4 separate regions of the Homo sapiens genome follow, and all the other regions are linked to region 1. The links come from fine-mapping of genetic effects on gene expression. A gene starts in region 1. Each other region holds a variant in brackets. All regions are shown on one strand. Distances are from middle to middle. Region 1 holds the start of FCRLB (Fc receptor like B). Region 2 holds the start of TRN-GTT1-1 (tRNA-Asn (anticodon GTT) 1-1). Region 3 has its middle 12 kb from the start of FCGR3B. Region 4 overlaps FCGR2B (Fc gamma receptor IIb).

Region 1 (5,153 bases):
CTGTGCCTCACACTATGGCAGGAGGGTAAGGGGACCTTGGGGGCTAGGCATGCCTTACTGCATCTCTCGCATAGTGCCGTGCAGGTCCCTACCTGCTCCAGAGACTTAAGATAGGCCCCAGTGTGGCCCTTGTTTCCTGCACCTTGGGATTGGCCCAGTGTTCCCTCCCACCAGAGGACTAGTATTGCCAGAGGAGACACGTGCTCCCCCTCCCCTCGTGCTCAGTCCACTCACCATTGGATACAGAGAGGTGGATGGGGTCACTGACGGGTGCTCCCCGTGTCTGGCATCGATACACCCCTGGTGTCTGCACCTCAATGCTCTTCTTGTGAGAGGGCAGAAGTAGGTGGCCCAAATACCAGAGAGTGCTGATGGGCTGGAGCTCCAGGAGCAGTGGGTGGTATCCATCACACTTCAAAGTTACCCGCTCCCCTTTGAAGATGGTGGTCCAAGGTGGATGTAGAGACAATATGGGCTTCTCCAGAGTAGCTGGGGTGGGGAGTGGGGTGAGAGGGGGCAGCATGCAAAGAGAATCAAGGTGAGGTGCCCAAAGAAACGACCTGAGTTTGGGAAATCTTAGGAAACCCCAGCTCGCAGGCCCCAGCCCATGTACTAACCCATCCCTGCAGGAGAGGAGATCACATTCATTGGGTTACAGACTACCAGTCCATCAGCCAGCACCCATTTCTAAATGCCTTCAAGCAAATTTAGTCCCAGGGGTTGACGAGAGTGGGAAGAGACACTATCCCAGCGCAGCCAAGAAGTGAGGAGTCTACTTGAAAAGGTCACTTAGGGGGTTGGAGTGGAAGCTGTAGAAAATTGGGATGAGAAATTTATAAGACTCACCAGCTTGCCCACTGCTTGGAACTGCAGAACAGGAAAGAAGGAAGAGGAAGGAGAAGGAGAATATTGGCGATGAGAGGAGAGAGACTCTTGACGACAAGAAAGGCTGAATGGTCCCAAAACCTGTTTTTCTTCTTCTGCCCCTGGTTTCCCAAGCTCTGAGAAAGCCCCTTCTTCTTCACCCCTCCAAAAAAAGATAATGAACCACTTGGAAACTGAGGATTGGATACCCACCCTCCTCTCCCCATACCTTGGTCCACCCTATTCTCCACCACCCAAAGCTCTTCTGCTGCCTCACTGTGGACTCACCCAGGAGCAGAAGGGCTGTCAGTGGCCACATGATGGATCTGACTGCAGCAGCTGCAGAAGGATGGAGATGCACTGGCATGAGATGGGGAACAGAGAGAAAGAATGTGGCCAGTGGATGCCACTGAGTACTAGGAGACATTGCTGCTTCTCCCACCCACTCCTAGTTCCTGAAGATAGCAGACCAGAACCAGTGGGAGACAGGCTGAATATCAGGTATCCCAAGTGCCAGGCACTGTCTCATCTACCGCATCTACAGCCACCTCACAGCTCAGGCCAGCCCTGACTACTGAAAGGAAGGCCTGCAGAACTTGTGCCCTCCACAGCACAAGAGAGCCCCATAGAACCCCAGGCTCCAGCAGATGACCCCGCCATCTTCAGGCTCCCATTGACATCCCACTCCCATCCCATCCCTTCTCCACCTTCCAGCCAGCCCTGCAAGGCTCAGCTGAGGAAGACACGGCCTCATGTCCTTAAGGACCTTTTTCCTGCTCACTCCTGATGACAGACATTGGCATGAGACCTAGAGAGGTCAGTGTTCGGTTGCCTGCCCCCAGAGCTCACATCCTGCCACAATGAGTAGACGAAAAGGCATGACTCACCAACCACCCTTCACATCCCTATCATCTAGTTCCCCAGTCAAGGATAGAAATGCAATGTGTTTCTTCTTCCTCCCTTCCTGAAATCTTGAGTTCTCATAAATTCTTAAATTCTTAAGAAGTTAGAAAACTCTTCTTTCCTACCCATCCCAATGAGCTCATCCTGTGGCACTTCCAATCACTTGTTCTTTTCTTCCTTCCTCCCACCCTTCCCTGCAACCCCTCCCCAGCCACGCCCCAGTTCCAGAACTCCTGACCTGCAGCAGAGAAGTCACTGCATCGGCCCCTCAGAAGCCTCTCAGATCTGACCTCGGGGCTCTACTTCTTGTGCTTTCTGAGCCATGTGACCGTACCTGAGCAATGAGGAGAACCTGAATTTTCATGTAAATACTTAATGAATTTTCCAGCCTGATAGTGTGTCTCCTTGGACTCTATCCTGTCCTTACCTGTGGTTGTTTAGAACCGGGGCACCTTGATCCCTTGGAAATCTGATGGGAAGGAGATCAATTATCAGGTACTGTCAACTCCCAGGAAGATAGTATCTTCCCCTCTTGCTGATGCCTGAAGTTCCACTCTGAGAGTCCCCTCATATTTTGCTTAATGGACTAGCCCCTTTTAAAAATGCAAATGCCTCTTAGGAAAATGTGACTGGTCATTTAAATTATGCTGGTCACTTCAGATCATGTTTTGAGTGCAGGTTTTGATAAAAGAGATAGAGTCCTGTAGATTTCAAACAAAGTAGGGACATATTTGACAATGTGCCCAAGAGTAGGGGAGGCAGAGAAGAACTAATTACTGGGAACAGGGATGATCACCTGCCTGCTTTAGGAGTGCCTGGGCTGACCAGCACTCTTGTGCTTCCCCTCCATCCTAATAATTCCTCGTCTCAGGGCCAGTGTGTGGCTTCCCACATGATCCACAGCCTGCCACAGAGGTCTGACTTCTGCACCAAGCCACCACCTCAATGGTAAGAATGCAATGCAGTTGTCAGCTGTCCTCTTAGGCAACACAAGCTGGCTCTATTTTGGCTTCTCATCCCCCAGAGCACAGATCTCAGCCCCTTTACTCGATTCAGAAGAAACCTTAGTACACCAAAACTTTGTGAACTGTATAGTCGTCCCTAGAAACCTCTGGAACCATCCATACTGTTCATATTATACAGTGCTCAGAATTTGACTTGAAAAATTTCCCACGAAATATTTATTTATTCTAGGCTCTCCTCTAAGTTTTTCCCAAAGTGAGTCTTTTTACTCCATCTAGGACTTTTCCCCAGAATTTCTAATTCTTCACTCCTTTACAATGCAGAAAAATTTAGAAATTATCATTTGTAACTTGAGCAATTATTTGAGGCCTATCACAACATAACATCTGGACAATATATGTCACCATTTGATAAGCATTCTGGTGATAAAGTGTTCTCAGTGATAATTACAGTAATGAACTAATGCTGTTGTTGCTGATGACAGCTCACTTTAGTGTCTCGGCATGTGGCAGGCACTATGCTAAGTGCTTCACAGATATTACTGCACTTAATTCTTGTAAGGCCCTTTGAGGAAGAATTATTAATATCCCAATTTTGCATATGAGGAAACTGAGATGATGAAACTGGGATTTGAATAGAAGTCTGTCTCCAAAATCTGTTCTCTTATCTCTCTGATTGTCAGGGATTCAAGATGCTGCTCATGGCCGGCTGTCATTATTGGTCTTTGCAAGTTCCCCCTCTTATTGTCTTACCTTGTTGACTTTCACCCACATTATTGTCCTCCTCCCCTCCACATAAGCACCCACTGTAAAATGTTTACTGTGTGTTCCCATATACATGCTATTTTTTTTTGTGCTTTAAGTTCTAGGGTACATGTGCACAACGTGCAGGTTTGTTACATATGTATACATGTGCCATGTTGGTGTGCTGCACCCATTAACTCGTCATTTACATTAGGTATAACATGCAGTTTTTAGCTTTGAGAAATATTTAGTGTTGTTAATTTACATAAGTGGCATTGTGTTCTAGATATTATATTCACTTCTACTTTTAAAAATTAATCCCAGATGTTTCAAATTTGTTCAGATTGCTCTACATGCATCATGTTTATTGCTTTTGACTGCCCTAATATTCTTTTTTTTTGAGACGCAGTTTTGCTCTTATTACCCAGTCTGGCATGCAATGGCATGATATCAGCTCACTGCAACCTCCACCTCCTGGGTTCAAGCAGTTCTCCTGCCTCAGCCTCCTGAGTAGCTGGGATTACAGGCGTGCATCACCACGCCTGGCTAATTTTGTGTTTTTAGCAGAGATGGGGTTTCACCATGTTGGCCAGGCTGGTCTTGGACTCCTGACCTCAGGTGATCCACCCACCTCAGCCTCCCAAAGTGCTGGGATTACAGGCATGAGCCACTGCGCCCAGCCATGACTGCCCTAATATTCTATGCTTCTGCTACACTGCACTTGTCCATTCCCCTAACATCCTAGTTGCTGCCCACCCTCAGCTACCACAGACAATTCCACAATGGACTTCTTGGTACATATTGTGAGGGCTGGATGAATTAACATATGTAAAGGGCTTAGAACAGGGGTTGGCACATAGGAAGTTTCATGTAAGTTAGTACTGGTAAGGACATGATGCTTCCCTACAGAGCCCTGAAGCGCCTTTATGGGATACACACCTGAGAGCAAGACTGCAGAATTATGTTCATGAGTTACATGCACACTCATTCCAAAACTCAAATCTAATTCATCAGCAAGTCCTGATGACTCTACCTGCTACATTGATCTTTTTGTACAGTAATTTATTCACTGAGTCGCTAGAGAGATACTTTTAAAATGTTAACCATATTGTGTTACTTTCTCTCAAAATTCCCCATAGGTACCCTCAGAATAAGTTCCAAACACCTTCCCATGGTCTACAGGGCCCTACAAATCGGGCCTTTCTCTGACCCTTGGCCTCATTTCCTACAACTCTCCCCCTCACTCACTCTGATCTAGCCACATTGTGTTTAGAACAGTTGCTGGAACATTCCATGCTTAGTCTTGCTCCAGGGCCTCACTTGCTGTTCTTTCTGCCTGAAAGATTCTTATTCTCCTCCCAGATTTTTGTAAGTTTCACTTCCTCACTTCACTCAAATATTACTTCCTCAGAGAGATGGTCGCTAACCGTGCTATCTAAAATAGTATCTCCTCACTGTCATTTGCTGGCTCCATATTTTGCTTTATTTCTCTTCAATGTACTTGTCACCACCCGGAATTGTATTTGTTTGTTTGTGGTAGGTTCCCCCATTAGAATGTAAGCTCCATTGAGGCAGGAATTTTTTCTTTTTTGCTGATGTATCACCTACAGCAGTGACAGCACATAGCACGTGCTGTGTAAGTATTTGTGGCATAAACAAAGGAAGAGATTGAATACCGTG
Region 2 (5,153 bases), 180 kb after region 1:
GACACTTTAAACTGAAAGTAAATACTCCCAAGTGGTTAGGGAAAGAGAGCAAATAAAGCAAATGGGGTAACATGTAAACAATGAGTGGATCTGGGTAAAGGATATACGAGATTAAACTATTCTGGTCATTTTTTTTTTAAGTTTGGAAATATATCAAAATCAAGAGTTTAAAAAATTGAAATGCAAAATCAACAAATTTGTCCCAGTTTCTAGACCATAGCATTGTCTGACAATTTCTTAACTGTCACACAAAACCCAGCTTACAACCTAACTTGTTAACGCTCCCTGTCACATCTCTGTCAAACAAGCAGGAGCCTTTGCTCAGTGTTTGGTGAGCTGTCCTCTGCTCAGATAGCACTAAGATCAGGAACCAATGGGAGGAAGCAATACTTTCCCCCAGACTTCCCCACCATTCCTACCACTTGCCTGTTGGCTGTTGTCAAAGACTTTCTACTGGTGACCTCACTGTTTGTTCCAAATATCTGCCTTAGTGACTGTCATTTTTTTTCATCTCTCCACTTCTCCTAATAGGTTTGGCAGTGTCAACCATCTCATCATTCTTTCCACCTGGGTACCAAGTCTCTTTCTGCTTGGTGATGGTACTCCTTTTTGCAGTGGACACAGGACTATATTTCTCTGTGAAGACAAACATTCGAAGCTCAACAAGAGACTGGAAGGACCATAAATTTAAATGGAGAAAGGACCCTCAAGACAAATGACCCCCATCCCATGGGGGTAATAAGAGCAGTAGCAGCAGCATCTCTGAACATTTCTCTGGATTTGCAACCCCATCATCCTCAGGCCTCTCTACAAGCAGCAGGAAACATAGAACTCAGAGCCAGATCCCTTATCCAACTCTCGACTTTTCCTTGGTCTCCAGTGGAAGGGAAAAGCCCATGATCTTCAAGCAGGGAAGCCCCAGTGAGTAGCTGCATTCCTAGAAATTGAAGTTTCAGAGCTACACAAACACTTTTTCTGTCCCAACCGTTCCCTCACAGCAAAGCAACAATACAGGCTAGGGATGGTAATCCTTTAAACATACAAAAATTGCTCGTGTTATAAATTACCCAGTTTAGAGGGGAAAAAAAAACAATTATTCCTAAATAAATGGATAAGTAGAATTAATGGTTGAGGCAGGACCATACAGAGTGTGGGAACTGCTGGGGATCTAGGGAATTCAGTGGGACCAATGAAAGCATGGCTGAGAAATAGCAGGTAGTCCAGGATAGTCTAAGGGAGGTGTTCCCATCTGAGCCCAGAGATAAGGGTGTCTTCCTAGAACATTAGCCGTAGTGGAATTAACAGGAAATCATGAGGGTGACGTAGAATTGAGTCTTCCAGGGGACTCTATCAGAACTGGACCATCTCCAAGTATATAACGATGAGTCCTCTTAATGCTAGGAGTAGAAAATGGTCCTAGGAAGGGGACTGAGGATTGCGGTGGGGGGTGGGGTGGAAAAGAAAGTACAGAACAAACCCTGTGTCACTGTCCCAAGTTGCTAAGTGAACAGAACTATCTCAGCATCAGAATGAGAAAGCCTGAGAAGAAAGAACCAACCACAAGCACACAGGAAGGAAAGCGCAGGAGGTGAAAATGCTTTCTTGGCCAGGGTAGTAAGAATTAGAGGTTAATGCAGGGACTGTAAAACCACCTTTTCTGCTTCAATATCTAATTCCTGTGTAGCTTTGTTCATTGCATTTATTAAACAAATGTTGTATAACCAATACTAAATGTACTACTGAGCTTCGCTGAGTTAAGTTATGAAACTTTCAAATCCTTCATCATGTCAGTTCCAATGAGGTGGGGATGGAGAAGACAATTGTTGCTTATGAAAGAAAGCTTTAGCTGTCTCTGTTTTGTAAGCTTTAAGCGCAACATTTCTTGGTTCCAATAAAGCATTTTACAAGATCTTGCATGCTACTCTTAGATAGAAGATGGGAAAACCATGGTAATAAAATATGAATGATAAAATTCTTTCTTCTTCCCTTTGTCCAACATTGTAACAGAGATTGGTTTGGATTGGTAAGAAACACCCCCTCCTCCCAGCAACCATCTCACCACAACTCATATAAATTAGCCAGCTTGCTTTCCAAATCTTGCTGAGACAATTGGGCTAAGGAGGATTCTTATGGGAAGTATGGGATAGGAGGGTGAATAAGCATTAGAGATCGTTTTAGAGCATTGGGGCAGATAGGAGAAGGCACAGCTACACAGGAGGTAGAGGCCTGGGCAGAGGTAGAGGGTCAGCCTGATTGTATGAATTATGAGCTATATACCAAGACGATTCAAGCTAGATTGCATACATAAATATTACATAAGATTCCGACACGACACAGGTGCATTTGGAAACCTTGGACATTCAACTCACATTTATTTACTACCTACAATGTGCAAGCTTGAGTTCAGGTGCTGAAGATACCAGATGAACAACACAGGGTCATTCCCTGGAGAAGCTTTATTTCTAGTGAGAAAAACAGTTAAATAGGAAGAGAATGAAGAAAGGGCTGCAGAAAAGAGGCTTGATTTGGGGGGTGTGGTCATGAAGGATGAGTAGGAGTTCGCCAGGCAAAGAAGAGAAGAAAAGCCCAAGGTTCATAGGCAAAGATTCAAAAACCAGAGTGTGAGTTCAAGAAAGCAGTTTGGTTCTGTGTCGGTGAGGGAGAGGAAAGAGTTTCAGGGCCAGATCATGAAGGGCATTACCTTCCAAACTAAGGAGATCGTATCAGACCCTGCAATACATTGAGAGAGTTTAAGCAGACCAGGTTTGTACCGTATAGTATTTTAGAAGGATTCTCTCGCAACTACTTGATGGATGGACGGGACAGGAGAGTTGAAGACCAGAAGCCAAATAGGGCAGCAAGGCAGGATGCAGTAACCCAAAGGGAGCAATGAGGAAGTAACTGGCGGTGAGGCTGGAGAGGAAGGTGCTTAATCAACAAGGTATTTAGGAGGCCGACTCTCCAAGAATTGGCAGCCAGCAGTACACGGCGTGACTAAGGACCA[G/C]GTTCCACACATAGTGCCCGTTTTCTGAGTTAGGAAATAGAAAGGCAAGGCAGGTACAGGTTTGGTGGAAAGACAAACAATTCGTTTTGGTATTATTAGTACTTACTTCCTTTGGTCAGTAAATTTTCTTAAAGTGTCAGTTTCCATAACGTAATTGCCGTGGTTAAGCAGCTAAGAGTTATCACTACAACCCTAGTCGGAAAAACCAAATACCTCAAAATTACCCGTACAGCACTAAGGCAGAAGAGGACATTGGGAACCACACAACGCGGAGGTCTGCTACCAGAGCTCCCTGCGGTTAGCACCGCGGCTGGTTTTGAGCGCCAAGGCCCCAGCGCTCCCAGCGGATAGCATCGCACGCAGTTTTTTCAGTCAAAGTTTCAAAAACCCAGGGTTCACAAAATGCGACTTCCGTCCCTGGGTGGGATCGAACCACCAACCTTTCGGTTAACAGCCGAACGCGCTAACCGATTGCGCCACAGAGACGGGCGTTGGCGATTTTGGCTGCCAAGTCACTTCACTGAAGAAAAAATGCTCAGCACTCACGTCTCCAAAAAAATTGAGGTTGATTTGAAACCAGTGACACAATTAGCTTTCCGTGCTTCAGGGCGCGGCTCATAGCCCTGAGCGAGGCAGGTCTTTTTTCTGCGCTAGCACTTGCCTAGATCTGGAGCAGGACTCAGCTTCCAGCAGAAGAGGTTGAGAAAAGGAGAGCAGAAGAGAATGCAGGAACGAAGGGTCTTCGGGGAATCCAAAATGGATGCTCTCTGTGGGTTCGGGGGTTCCGTTGATTTTGGTCAGAGAAGTACGACGATAAGCTTTTTTTGCTGATGTAGACAACTTATGTATGCATGTGCACACGTTTAGTGCTGACTCATAATAAGCTTATTATCGTGAGCATTAAAAATATTTTCTTTCAGGTCCAATCACGTCCAGCAAAATGTGATGTCTAAGTAAGTGAGTTTTGTGTTACAAAATTAGTCTTCAACCCACGCTGTTTTGAAAGGTTTCTACCGGCATATTAGACATGCAGACAGAACACGGAGCTTAAAAAGCCTGTAACATTCCAATTAATGGTATTCAGCTTGGAAATAAAAAATATTTTTTAAAAAATGCGTGCAACTTAAGGACTTTCATGCTGACATATCCAGATCCAAATATCTGAGGACAGAGACCCCTAATTCCACCACCATCGACCTAGGGAACCTCGTCAGTGCTGGGTCTAAAAAGGCTTTTTTTTTTTCTTTAATTCATATGTATATATACTTTATTCATATATATATATACTTTAAGTTCTAGGCTACATGTGCACAAGGTGCAGGTTCGTTACATATACATGTGCCATGTTGGTGTGCTGCACCCATTAACTCGTCATCTACATTAGGTGTTTCTCCTAATGTTATCCCTCCCTCCTTCCCCCACCCACGACAGGTCCCGGTGTGTGATGTTCCCTACCATGCACACGTATGTTTATTGTGGAACTATTCACAATAGCAAAGACTTGGAACCAACCCAAATGTCCATCAATGATAGACTGGATTAAGAAAATGTGGCACATATACACTATGGAATACTATGCAGCCATAAAAAAGGATGAGTTCATGTCCTTTGTAGGGACATAGATGAAGCTGGAAACCATCAGTCTGAACAAACTATCACAAGGACAGAAAATCAGACACCGCATGTTCTCACTCATAGGTGGGAATTGAACAATAAGAACACTTGGACGAAAGCCATTTTCTATATTGCCCAAAAACCAGGGTCTCTCCATAGCCTCCACACAGAATCTCCTTTCTTTCTGCCCTGCCATCCTCTGTCATCAGTGGGCTCCAGTTTAGGAGCAGGTGGAAGTTTTCAATGATGTTCAGTGAAATGAGAAGACATGCAAACATAGATATGTATATGCAGAAATTATATATGCATATATGTTTATATGTACACAGTATCATATGTATAATAAATAAGTAAATAAATAAATAAATTTGCCAAATGATCTTTAAACTAGAGTCATTTATTTTTTTTATTAATTTTTTTTTTTGAGATGGAGTCTTGCTCTGTCGCCCAGGCTGGAGTGCAGTGGCGCAATCTTGGCTCACTGCAACCTCCACCTCCCACATTCAAGCAATTCTCCTGTCTCAGCCTCCTGAGT
Region 3 (5,153 bases), 79 kb after region 1:
GATACAAAACTAAAACCAACCAAAAACAAACTACTAACTGCAAACTGGAAAAAAAAATGTGTAAAAATTCATGTCTCCCTGCAAAGGGGTATTTTTATTACATAAGAAATTAATGAGAAGAACATAGAGTTTTGATAAATAGGCAAAGGCAGGGATATCAATAGAGAAACCCAAAAACATTTAGTTAAACAAAAAATAAATATCCAAGAGGGCCAGACATGGTGCTAAGTGCTTTCCATCTAATAGCAACATGAAAGAGGAAATGCAACTGGTTGACAGACACATGGTAAATGTTGACTCCACACTAGTAATCAAATAAATGCAAATAAAAATTATGAGACCCCATTTCTCAGCTATGAAATTGCCCACAATTAAGAAAAAAGGACGTGATTAAATGAACTTGCATATATTTCTGAATAGGGTAGAAATTAAAACAATTGTTTTGGAAAGAGATTTGGAAAAACTATCAAAACCTTGGAAATTCATATACTTATGACATTGTAATTTTGCTTCTGGGAAAATGACCTTTGGAAATATCCCAAAATATACAAAAGCATTGTTACTCTTTGCAGAGCTACTGAATGATAATGAAAATTAGAAACAACCTAAAATATCCAAAATCATGCTTAAAGTAAATTGCTCTGCTGCTACATCAGCTGGAGTCTCTCTGAGCACTGAGAGAGAAGGGTATGAATGAATCAGTTAGGTGGCTTTCTGAAGCAAGTACAGAAAATTCTGCTCAAATGGCTTAAATAATAATAAATGTTTTACTATCTCACATATTAAGTTTCTTGAAGTTAGGGCAGCTCCAGAGCTGTTTAATCTACAATAATGTCATCAGTAACCCAGATTCTTCCCTCTCTTTGCTTTGCTACTCTCAGCATGTCAGCCAGTCTTCTCTGGAAGCAAGTTGGCTGCCGTAGTAGCTCCCAGCATCACATCTTTAAGCATCACCATGTCCAAAGACTGAGAAAGAACTCGTTACTTCCTGAGTCCCAGAATCCCTCTAGCAGATTATCCCTGAGGATTAATTGTCCAGAACTGTATCATATGCTTAGTCCTAAGCATGGCAAGACAATAGAACACCATAATTGGCTTAGAGCAGCAGTTCTCAAAGTGTGGTCCTTGTACCAAGATCAGCATTACCTGGAAACTTATTAGAAATGCACATTCTCAAGCCCCACCAGAATCAGAAACTCGGAGGGTAGAGTAGAGCTCACCAAGTTGTGTTTTTAACAAGCCCTCCAAATGGCTCTGATGTAGCTCAAATTTGAGAACCACTGGTTTAGACTAACCGAAAGTTCACACACTGAGGCTGGAAAAGGTCTAGGCTTCTCTACAGCTCATGACCACAACATTGCTAAACGAAATCAAGTTCCGTTAGCAAAGAAGAAGGGAAGAAATGGCTGTGCAGTAGGCAACTGCCCATACAGGATAAAGTTCCTGTTTTGGTGGCCAAAATGACCCAAATCTTTTAAAAAAAAAAGAAAGTCAAAGTAATACCATTTCTTCCTTTCCACACACCCTCAAATACATTTTTTAAGCATTTCTCCTCCCATTTAATGTGAAATGTGAAAGATGTTGAGTGGAGTTTGCAGTTGTTCGAGACCAGCTGGCCAACATGGTGAAACAACATGGTGTTTATGTATATGTGGAATCATTATAAAAAAGGAAGTTGCAGAAGAATATGCATTATGTAATATGCTAACAATAACTACAGAAATGAGCAAAATATAAATACATAAAGGTGGATGTGTGCTTATATGAATATAAGTGTATGGGGAAAGTTCTGGAAAGATATACTACAAGCTTCTAAGGGGTTACCTCTGAGGAAGGGAGTGAAATTGGGGGAGGGAGTCATTAAATCTCACTGTTACTTTTATTTTATTTACGTCCGAATTGTTTCACTTATTTGCAACAAGAACATATATAGATCACGCGTGTATTTTCAAACCAAAAAGTGCTTAAAGCCACAATAACAAAATATTGGTGAAAGGGACAAGGACTGAGTCTCTAGGGATGGTTCTGAGCTCTGCTCATACTCCCAATGATGTTGCCAACCTTTCTCTCTTCTCCAGTGGGATGGCACGGATTAAAAACAGAACAACACAAAACAGTATTTCCACTTCTTTTTCAAAAACTTTTTCAAAAACTAAGTTTTCTTTTTGGTGTTACCTTGTATTGTTCTGGTAGATTCTGAAGATTTTGCACATGAGCAGAAGCATGAATTTAGTTTTTATAATTAACTTTTAACTCTTAGAAGTATAATTTGCTAGCTCTGCTAGAAAATCCTTTTGGCTCCCAAAAGCTGCCTTCATTAGGATTTTTAGAAGACAAAGGCTACTACATTCTGCAATATCTAGAAACTACCACTGGAAGGCAACATTCAGAATTAGAGAATATTTAAGATGGAAAGAGTTAGATATAATCTAGCCCAATTACCTCACTTTGCTATGAGGAAACAAGTTTAGGGAAGAGAAGTGGCTTGACAACTGACCCCTGTTAGACTGAAACCAAAACTGAGATTTCCTTCCTCCTTGACCAGTATCCTTCCCATAACACATCGCCATCACTCTCTTTTTGAAACTTTAAAAACTTGCAAGTCTGGGAGGCATCTAAGCATGTTCTGATGTGAGATAGCACAAGGCAGGGCATTTAAAACTCACTCTTGGCTATAGCATAAAATTTTGGAAAGTTCTTGTATGTCAGCAGGTCATATTATTTTAATAACCACAGCCAACGCCAACAGGTGCAGCTTAAGGTCATCCCACAAAATCT[G/A]CTTCAATCCCATGTGCTTTTTTTCCCTTGTTGTCTGTCTATCTCTTCCTGGTTTTGTGAAAGTGTTCTCTCCTTGTCCCATGACTGCCTTTGTATGATGTATCTCGAGGTGTGTCTGTTTCCAGATCTCTCAGTAGATGCCTTGCTCTTCATGCATTTTCCATCTATTTTTAAGACACCATATTTGTAAACCTGGGTGTCTCTCTCAGTTTTTTGTGGGGTTTTGTTTTGTTTTGTTTTTTACTGTCCCAGTAACTGTGTCTTTCTGAGTTTTCTCTCACTGGTTTTCCTCTAAGTCCCATCCCATTTTGTGTCTTTATGTCTCTAACTCTGCCTGTTCTCCTCCCTTTTCTTTTATATTGACAGTTTCCTTTCCTATTTCTTTTCTTCACTTTACTAGACACATAATGGTGAATATTTTGTTTTGTTTTGTTTTGAGACGGGGTATCGCTCTGTTGCCCAGGCTGGAGTGCAGTTGCACGATCACAGTTCACTGCAACCTCCACTTCCCAGGCTCAAGTGATCCTCCCGCCTCAGCCTCCCAAGTAGCTGGGACCACAGGCATGTAGCCCCAGGCCTGGCTTATTTTGAATTTTTTTAAGAGATGGGGTTTTGCCAGGTTGCCCAGACTGGTGTTGAACTCCTGGCCTCAAGCAATGCTCCTGCCTCAGCCTCCCAATGTGCTGGGATTACAGGTATGAGCCACCATGCTGGGACCATGAATATTTTTTATTAAATAATTTTGATATCTATTGTATTTAAAGCTCAGAGCTAACTATATTTTGTTATTAATATTAAAATAAGCAAGTAGAAGCCAGGCAGTAGTGCTGGCTACTCAGGAGGCTGAGGCAGAAGGACTGCTTGAGTCCAGGAGTTTTTTAACCCAGCCTGGCTGACACAGTGAGACCTCATCTCTAAAAAAGAAAGCAAGCAGAATATTTTCTTAAAAGGCAATTATATTCCTTCTTGGCCAGGCCCAGTGGCTCACACCTGTAATCCCAGCACTTTGGGAGGCCGAGATGGGTGGATCACCTGAGGTCAGGAGTTCGAGACCAGCCTGGCCAACATGGTGAAAACCCGTGTCTACTAAAAATACAAAAATTAGCTGGGCATGGGGGCATATGCCTGTAATCCCAGCTACTTGGGAGGCTGAGACAGGAGAATCGCTTGTACCCGGGAGGCAGAGATTGCAGTGAGCCGAGATCATGCCACTGCACTCCAGCCTTGGCGACAGAGTGAGGCTTTGTCTAAAAAAAAAAAAAAAAGGTATTTTTTGCCTCTCTGTTGGTACCAATTGTTAAATTCTTTGTGGACCACTGATGCTTACCAAAAAAAAAAAGTGGGGGCGTCATATTTCCTCTAGTTGACATTAAAACACAGTAATTTAGCCAGAGGAGATCTTAGCAAACATACAGTCCACACTCCACTTTCTCATTTCATGATTGTAGAGACTGAGATCTAGACAATTTAATTGGTGGTCACCCTGGGTGACATAGCTAGGTCTAGAGCTCCTGGTCTCCATGTCAGCATTTCTTTCTTCTTCATTAAATGTCAAGTTTCCTCCCCTGTTCATTATTAGCTCCTTCCAGAAAAAGAGTTTCTTATCCTTTTAGTAGGTACTCAGTAAATACCAAGGTATTCACTAGGATGCCTTTGGATGAAGGTAACAAGCCCTGACTTAAATTGGCTTAAACAGCAGGGAAATTTACTTGAAATTGTAAGAAATCTGGGTTGGTTGCGTTAGAAGCTCAGTGATGTCACCAAGACCATATTCTATCCCTCCACTCTGTCCTCCTTGATTTTTTGGCATTGACCTCAGACTGGCTGCCTTCAAAATCTTAGGTTTTGCCAGCAGAACCTAGGACAAAATGAGCCCTTGTTCATGTACAGTGGGAGAGAGAGATCATCTCTCCCAAACATGGCACTCCCCTCTACCAGATTGGCCCTATTTAGGACAAAGTTCCGTCTTCTCCCACTTAACCAATAAAAGCCAGGGGAATGCTACACCCTGAGTGGCTTAGATCAGTCAAGATCCACCTCTGCATATGAGGGTGATTCCTGAATAGAATCAAGGTTATATTAGAAGGGAGGGAGAGGGATGGATATCAGGCTAGTACATCATATTCTATTTGTTGAGTTAACTGAGCATAGCAATTGTTGAGTTGGAAAAAACTCAGAACCTACTGTGGATTCAAGTTCAAGAAATCATTCTTTCCTACATACAACAGCATTGCTCTGTAGCCCTGAGCTAAGAGAGCATCACGAAATACAGTCTTCTTGCTGTTTATAATCGTAAGCAAACTCTTGGACCTGGGAGGGGATGAATGGATAATGTCTGTCTGACTTGCTTCTTTCTAGTTAGTACCAACTACCTC
Region 4 (5,153 bases), 42 kb after region 1:
ATTTCCTTAATGTTTAAGCCAATTTGAATCACGATTTCCTGTTATTTCCAACTGAAGTCATCCTAACTGATAAAAGAAAGAAAACCCAAAACCTAGGAATGAGAGGAGGGACATAAACACAAACACACAACTTATTACCAAAAAATAGGGGAAAAGTGCGATGTACCACTGCATACCAATAAAATGGATGATTCCTAGGAAAGCAAAAGTTTTCAAAATTGACTCCCGAGAGAGAGAAAATCATAACCAGACCAAAAATGACAGAAAGAAAAGTCTGTCAAAGATCTGTCACAAAAAAATGTGCCAAGCTCATATGATATTATAGGAAAATTCTGTAAGTCTGAATGAATGAAGAGTTGTAACTTAGGAAGCCTCAATATGACACAGATGTCAAACCTTACCCAAATAATCTATAAATGCAATGCAATTCTACCAATATCATAATAGTGTTATGGAATTCTTAAGTACATCTGGAAGAGAAGCAGCACATTAGTAGCCAAGAAAACCTTGAAACAAAAGAATGAGAGAAAACTTGACCTTCTATATATCAAAGTACACTATAAAGTTGCAATAACTAAAAATGTGGTATTGATGCAGAAATAGACAAATAGAACAATGTAATAGAAGAGAGGCTAAAAATAGACCTATGAGTGGGAATTTAGGTGATAAATTAGGATTTCAAATTATTAAACTGTTCAACAAATGATATTGGAACAACTGACTTTCATATGGAAAAATTATATTAGGTTCTCACCTTACACCAAGTCCAAAAATAAGTTCCAAATATAGTAAAGATCTATTTAAAGCATTTAAGAGTTTTAGATAAATATAATATTATTTCATTCGTTAACTCATTCAATAAATAGTGATTGCATTGTTCTAGTCTCTGGAATACACCAGTGAATAATACAAACATCCTGCCCAGAGTGAGCTTACATTTTAGAACTTGTAAGTAAATATTTAAGCAAAAAAATGCATGATTACATACAGTGATAGATACCATGAAGGAAATAAGAGCAGAGGAATAGCAGTAGGGGAAGTGCAGTCAGGGATGTCCTTCCTGAAGAGGATATTTGAAAGAACTCATCAAACTCTACCGAGCATGCTCAAACAAAGTGCTTATTTAAAAGTATAGCAAGAGAAAGAAAGTCTAGGCAATTACTGGGAGTCCAAGAGATTCCATGTGCAAGCTCCCTAGCATCCTTATAGTTACCGTAACTTATTTACGCTTTTTGTCTGGATTAAACCACCGGGATCCATACAAGGAATCTTGGCTATGGGAGAGCTCAAAGCAGAAGTTCCTAGAGGGATTTTTATGCCCCCTCTGGCTACGTAATCATGCCAACTATCTAAATGGCTTATTGAAAAACTATCAGTAAAGAAACTGACCCTGGGGATCAGGAGTCAAGTTTCAGACTTTAGGTAGCATGTCAGGGCCAGGCACCGTGGCTCACACCTGTAATCCCACCACTTTGGGAGGCTAAGTGGGGAGGATCGCCTGAGGCTCACAGTTTGAGATCAGCCTAGACAACATAGCAAAACCCCGTCTCTACAAACTATTTTTTTTTTTTTTGAGACCGAGTCTCTCTCTGTTCCCCAGGCTGGAGTGCAATGGCATGATCTCGGCTCACTGCAACCTTCGCCTCCCAGGTTCAAGCAATTCTCGTGCCTCAGCTTCCCAAGTAGCTGGGACTAAACAGTCATGAGCCACCACACCCAGCTAATTTTTGTATTTTCAGCAGAGATGGAGCTTCACCGTTTTAGCCAGGCTGGTCTTGAACTCCTGACCTCAGGTGATCCACCCACCTTTGCCTCCCAAAGTGCTGGGATTACAGGCATGAGCCACCGCGCCCAGCCAAAAAGTTCTTTTTTTTTTTTTTTTTTTTGAGACGGAGTCTCTGTCGCCCAGGCTGGAGTGCAGTGGTGCAATCTTGGCTCACTACAAGCTCTGCCTCCCGGGTTCACGCCTTCTCCTGCCTCAGCCTCCCGAGTAGCTGGGATACAGGCACCCGCCACCAAGCCCAGCTAATTTTTTTTTTTTTGTATTTTTTTTAGTAGAGACGGGGTTCCACTGTGTTAGCCAGGATGGTCTCGATCTCCTGACATCATGATCCACCCGCCTCGGCCTCCCAAAGTGCTGGGATTACAGGCGTGAGCCACCATGCCCGGCCAAAAAATTCTTAAAAATTAGCCAGGTGTGGTAGTCCCAGCTACTAGGAAGGCTGAGGTGGGAAGACCACTTGAGCCCAGGAGTTTGAGGCTGCAATGAGCTGTGATCCTGCCACTGCACTCCAGCCTGGACTACAACCCTATCTCTTAAAAAAAAAAAAAAAAGAAAGAAAGAAAAGGGAAGAGGATAGAGGGAACTGATGACAAAATGGAACTTCTACTTTTTACTCCTTATCTTTCTGTATTATTTGGGCTTACATGCTTACAATGAGCATACATTTTTGCCTGAGTGTATTTATTAACATGTAAAATATATGATATGATCCAATTTTTTTTTTTTTTTGAGACAGAGTTTCACTCTTGTTGCCCAGGCTGAAGTGCAATGGTGCGATCTCAGCTCGCTGCAACCTCTGCTTCCCAGGTTCAAGCGATTCTCCTGTCTCAGCCTCTCGAGTAGCTGGGATTAGATCCAATTTTTAAAACACAAATACACACTGCCACAGACAGGAATATGGATTGATATCCTTAAATGTTAGCATTAATTATTTCTGGTTTATGGATTTATGGGCGATCTAATTTTTTTGTTTTCCCTATCTGTATCTTAATTTTATAAAAAGAATACATTATTAGTGTAGTGAAATAATTTACATATAAATAAAAGGAAATAAGTTACTACTATGCAATTTATAAATAAAGGGACATACATTGTATCTACAAAAATGGGCAAAGAATAAATACACAGGAAACTCACAAAAGAGGAAATATAAAAGGCTAATCGTAAATTCTCTAAATTCTAAAGCATATAGTTTGGCACAAACTATATGGCACAAAGTAAGTCCTTAATAACGCAGTAATTTTAATTATTATCCCTTATTACTAAAACAATAAGTGTGTATGAAATCTGATTGTGGGACCATAAAAAGTGAGTACTTTTTATCCTACCATAAAAAGTGCAACAAATGTTGCACGATGTTACTGCGTAGAGTCCCAGGAAAATGAAGCCTCTCCAAGGGCACTCACCAAACCCTCAAGGAGACTGCCAGTCATGTTTCTAATCTGCCTGAGATGACTTCTCTGAGAA[G/A]GTCACATCCTTCTGGTAACTACATTGGGAGAATAGCAGAGCAGGACATGTCAGCAATCTCCACTCAGGGCTCATCTGAAGTTTGACTTCCCGTGAACTTGTGTTGCAAAACAGTGTTTTATTTGCCATAGGAGGAAAGAGAAGAAGACATGGAAACAAGAATACAAGGTCATTGGCAGAAGAGTACAGTCATGCATTGTTGAAATATGGGGATACATTTTGAGAAATGCAGGCAATTTTGTTGTGTGAACATCATAGCAGGTACTTATACAAACCTAAATGGTGTGGCCTACTACACACCTAGGCTGTAGCGTATAGCCTATTGCCCCTAGGCTACAAACCTGTACAGCATGCTACTGTACTGAATACTTTAGGCAATTGTAACACAATGGTAAGTACTCATATATCTAAACATAGGAATAGAAAAGGTACAATAGAAATATGGTATTATAATTTTATGGGATCACCATCATATATGCAGTCTGTTGTTGAACTAAACATCATTATGTGGTGCGTGACTGTATTCAGTTTTAAGAAAAGGGGCACTCACTCTACATTCTAAATCCCCATCTCTCCTCTCCTCCCCCTATCCTATCCATTCCTGCCTTCCTAAGAGTCTCATCACTGAAGAGAAACAGACCCCAGGCAGTTCAGTCTACACTCCAACCAATACAGCCTTGAAAAGGTAAACAGAATGTTGTTTTTATAATGTTTTATTATAAAAGTAATATATGATCTTTATAGAAAAATAAAGAAAATAAAAATCATCAATAATTTTATCACCCAGAAACAATCACTTTTAATGTGCTGGTAGAGGTTAGTCTATTTTAACATTTCTGAAATCATATAGATTTACATGATTGTTCTCACGTAACCTGTAACATAAGCATTTCCCAAGTTGCTATTATCTGTTAATAACAGTGGTTTGATTAATTGGATTGGCTGTGTGGATGTGGAACGGAAGAGCCTTGATGTCAAGAAGAGCTGAAGCACAGAAGGTGCAGTCGGTTATTTGGGACCATATTGTCTGTGGCTTTCAGGACAGGGAGCTTCAGGACTCAGGTAGATGACTCTGGAAGAAACCTTCTCTTTTGGAACTGCAGCATCTCCCTGTCCTCCCCAAGGGGAATTTAGGCCAGGAAATACCAGATCTTCCCTCTCTGATTTTCTTCTCAAATCCCAATGCAAGACAATGGAGACTAAATACGGTTCTGGTCATCAGGCTCTTCCAGAGCATCCGGGTGCATGAGAAGTGAATAGGTGATTGTGTTCTCAGCCTAGAGAAGGCAGAAACCAGCAGTAAGGATCCACAGAGAGGGCCTAGGAAAGAAGGCAACAGAAAAGGCAACAGGGGAGAAGGGAGGGGGAGATGGCTGGGATCACTCACCCCAACTTTGTCAGCCTCATCAGGATTAGTGGGATTGGCTGTGGGAAAAAGAAGAAATATCAGCCAGAGCACTGCTGGAGAAGAGGGCCTGCCTGTGCTGATGCTGAGGCTGCAAAACCAACGCCCAAACTAGAGCCAAAGCAAGCACTGCTGACCCTGTCTTGGGCCTCTAGGCCAAGCACTGGGTAAATATGACCTCATTGATCGATGCATAGGGTAGCCCAGCCACAGCCTTCCGCAAAGGCCAAGGTGAAAAAGTGGAGCAGTCACTTGAGCTGCATTCTTTTCAGGGAATTGCTGAGCTTTCCTAGAAGCAAACCAGGGAGGCTTGGGATCTGAGATATTGGGGAAGAGGTGGGGGAGGGGGGTGTTCAGCATCAGAGTGAAGTAAAGTCCAGATTTTTGCTGGCCACAGACTTCAGGGAGAGAAGGCTGAGGGCCATTTCCACATTGTCTAAATGTAGTGCATCTTTGTTGGAACTTTGAAAAATATGGTACTCCATGGCATTAAAAAGA

Evidence for each region.
Region 2: its variant is fine-mapped to the expression of FCRLB in lung (TOPMed, PIP 0.94).
Region 3: its variant is fine-mapped to the expression of FCRLB in tibial artery (GTEx, PIP 0.94).
Region 4: its variant is fine-mapped to the expression of FCRLB in whole blood (TOPMed, PIP above 0.99).

The regions. Positions count from the first base shown.
Region 1 is chr1:161,718,703-161,723,855 of GRCh38, reverse strand. It overlaps FCRLB (Fc receptor like B), which reads right to left and starts at 2,312. Exons shown (of 8, transcript NM_001002901.4): 1 at 2,195-2,312; 2 at 2,006-2,101; 3 at 1,153-1,203; 4 at 847-867; 5 at 235-489. The coding sequence starts at 1,183. RefSeq lists enhancers at 1,251-1,350, 1,431-1,530 and a silencer at 4,910-4,959.
Region 2 is chr1:161,538,578-161,543,730 of GRCh38, reverse strand. It overlaps FCGR3A (Fc gamma receptor IIIa), which reads left to right. Exons shown (of 5, transcript NM_000569.8): 5 at 532-1,972. The coding sequence ends at 719. TRN-GTT1-1 (tRNA-Asn (anticodon GTT) 1-1) reads right to left here and starts at 3,490; the gene lies at 3,417-3,490. RefSeq lists a silencer at 3,285-3,514. The variant G/C (reference allele first, on the strand shown) is at 3,005.
Region 3 is chr1:161,640,176-161,645,328 of GRCh38, reverse strand. No RefSeq gene overlaps it. Among named protein-coding and RNA genes, the nearest start is that of FCGR3B, 12 kb to the right of the region's middle. The variant G/A (reference allele first, on the strand shown) is at 2,779.
Region 4 is chr1:161,676,850-161,682,002 of GRCh38, reverse strand. FCGR2B (Fc gamma receptor IIb) reads right to left here. Exons shown (of 8, transcript NM_001394477.1): 7 at 4,638-4,675; 8 at 3,349-4,527. The coding sequence ends at 4,450. Among named protein-coding and RNA genes, the nearest start is that of FCGR2B, 16 kb to the right of the region's middle. The variant G/A (reference allele first, on the strand shown) is at 3,251.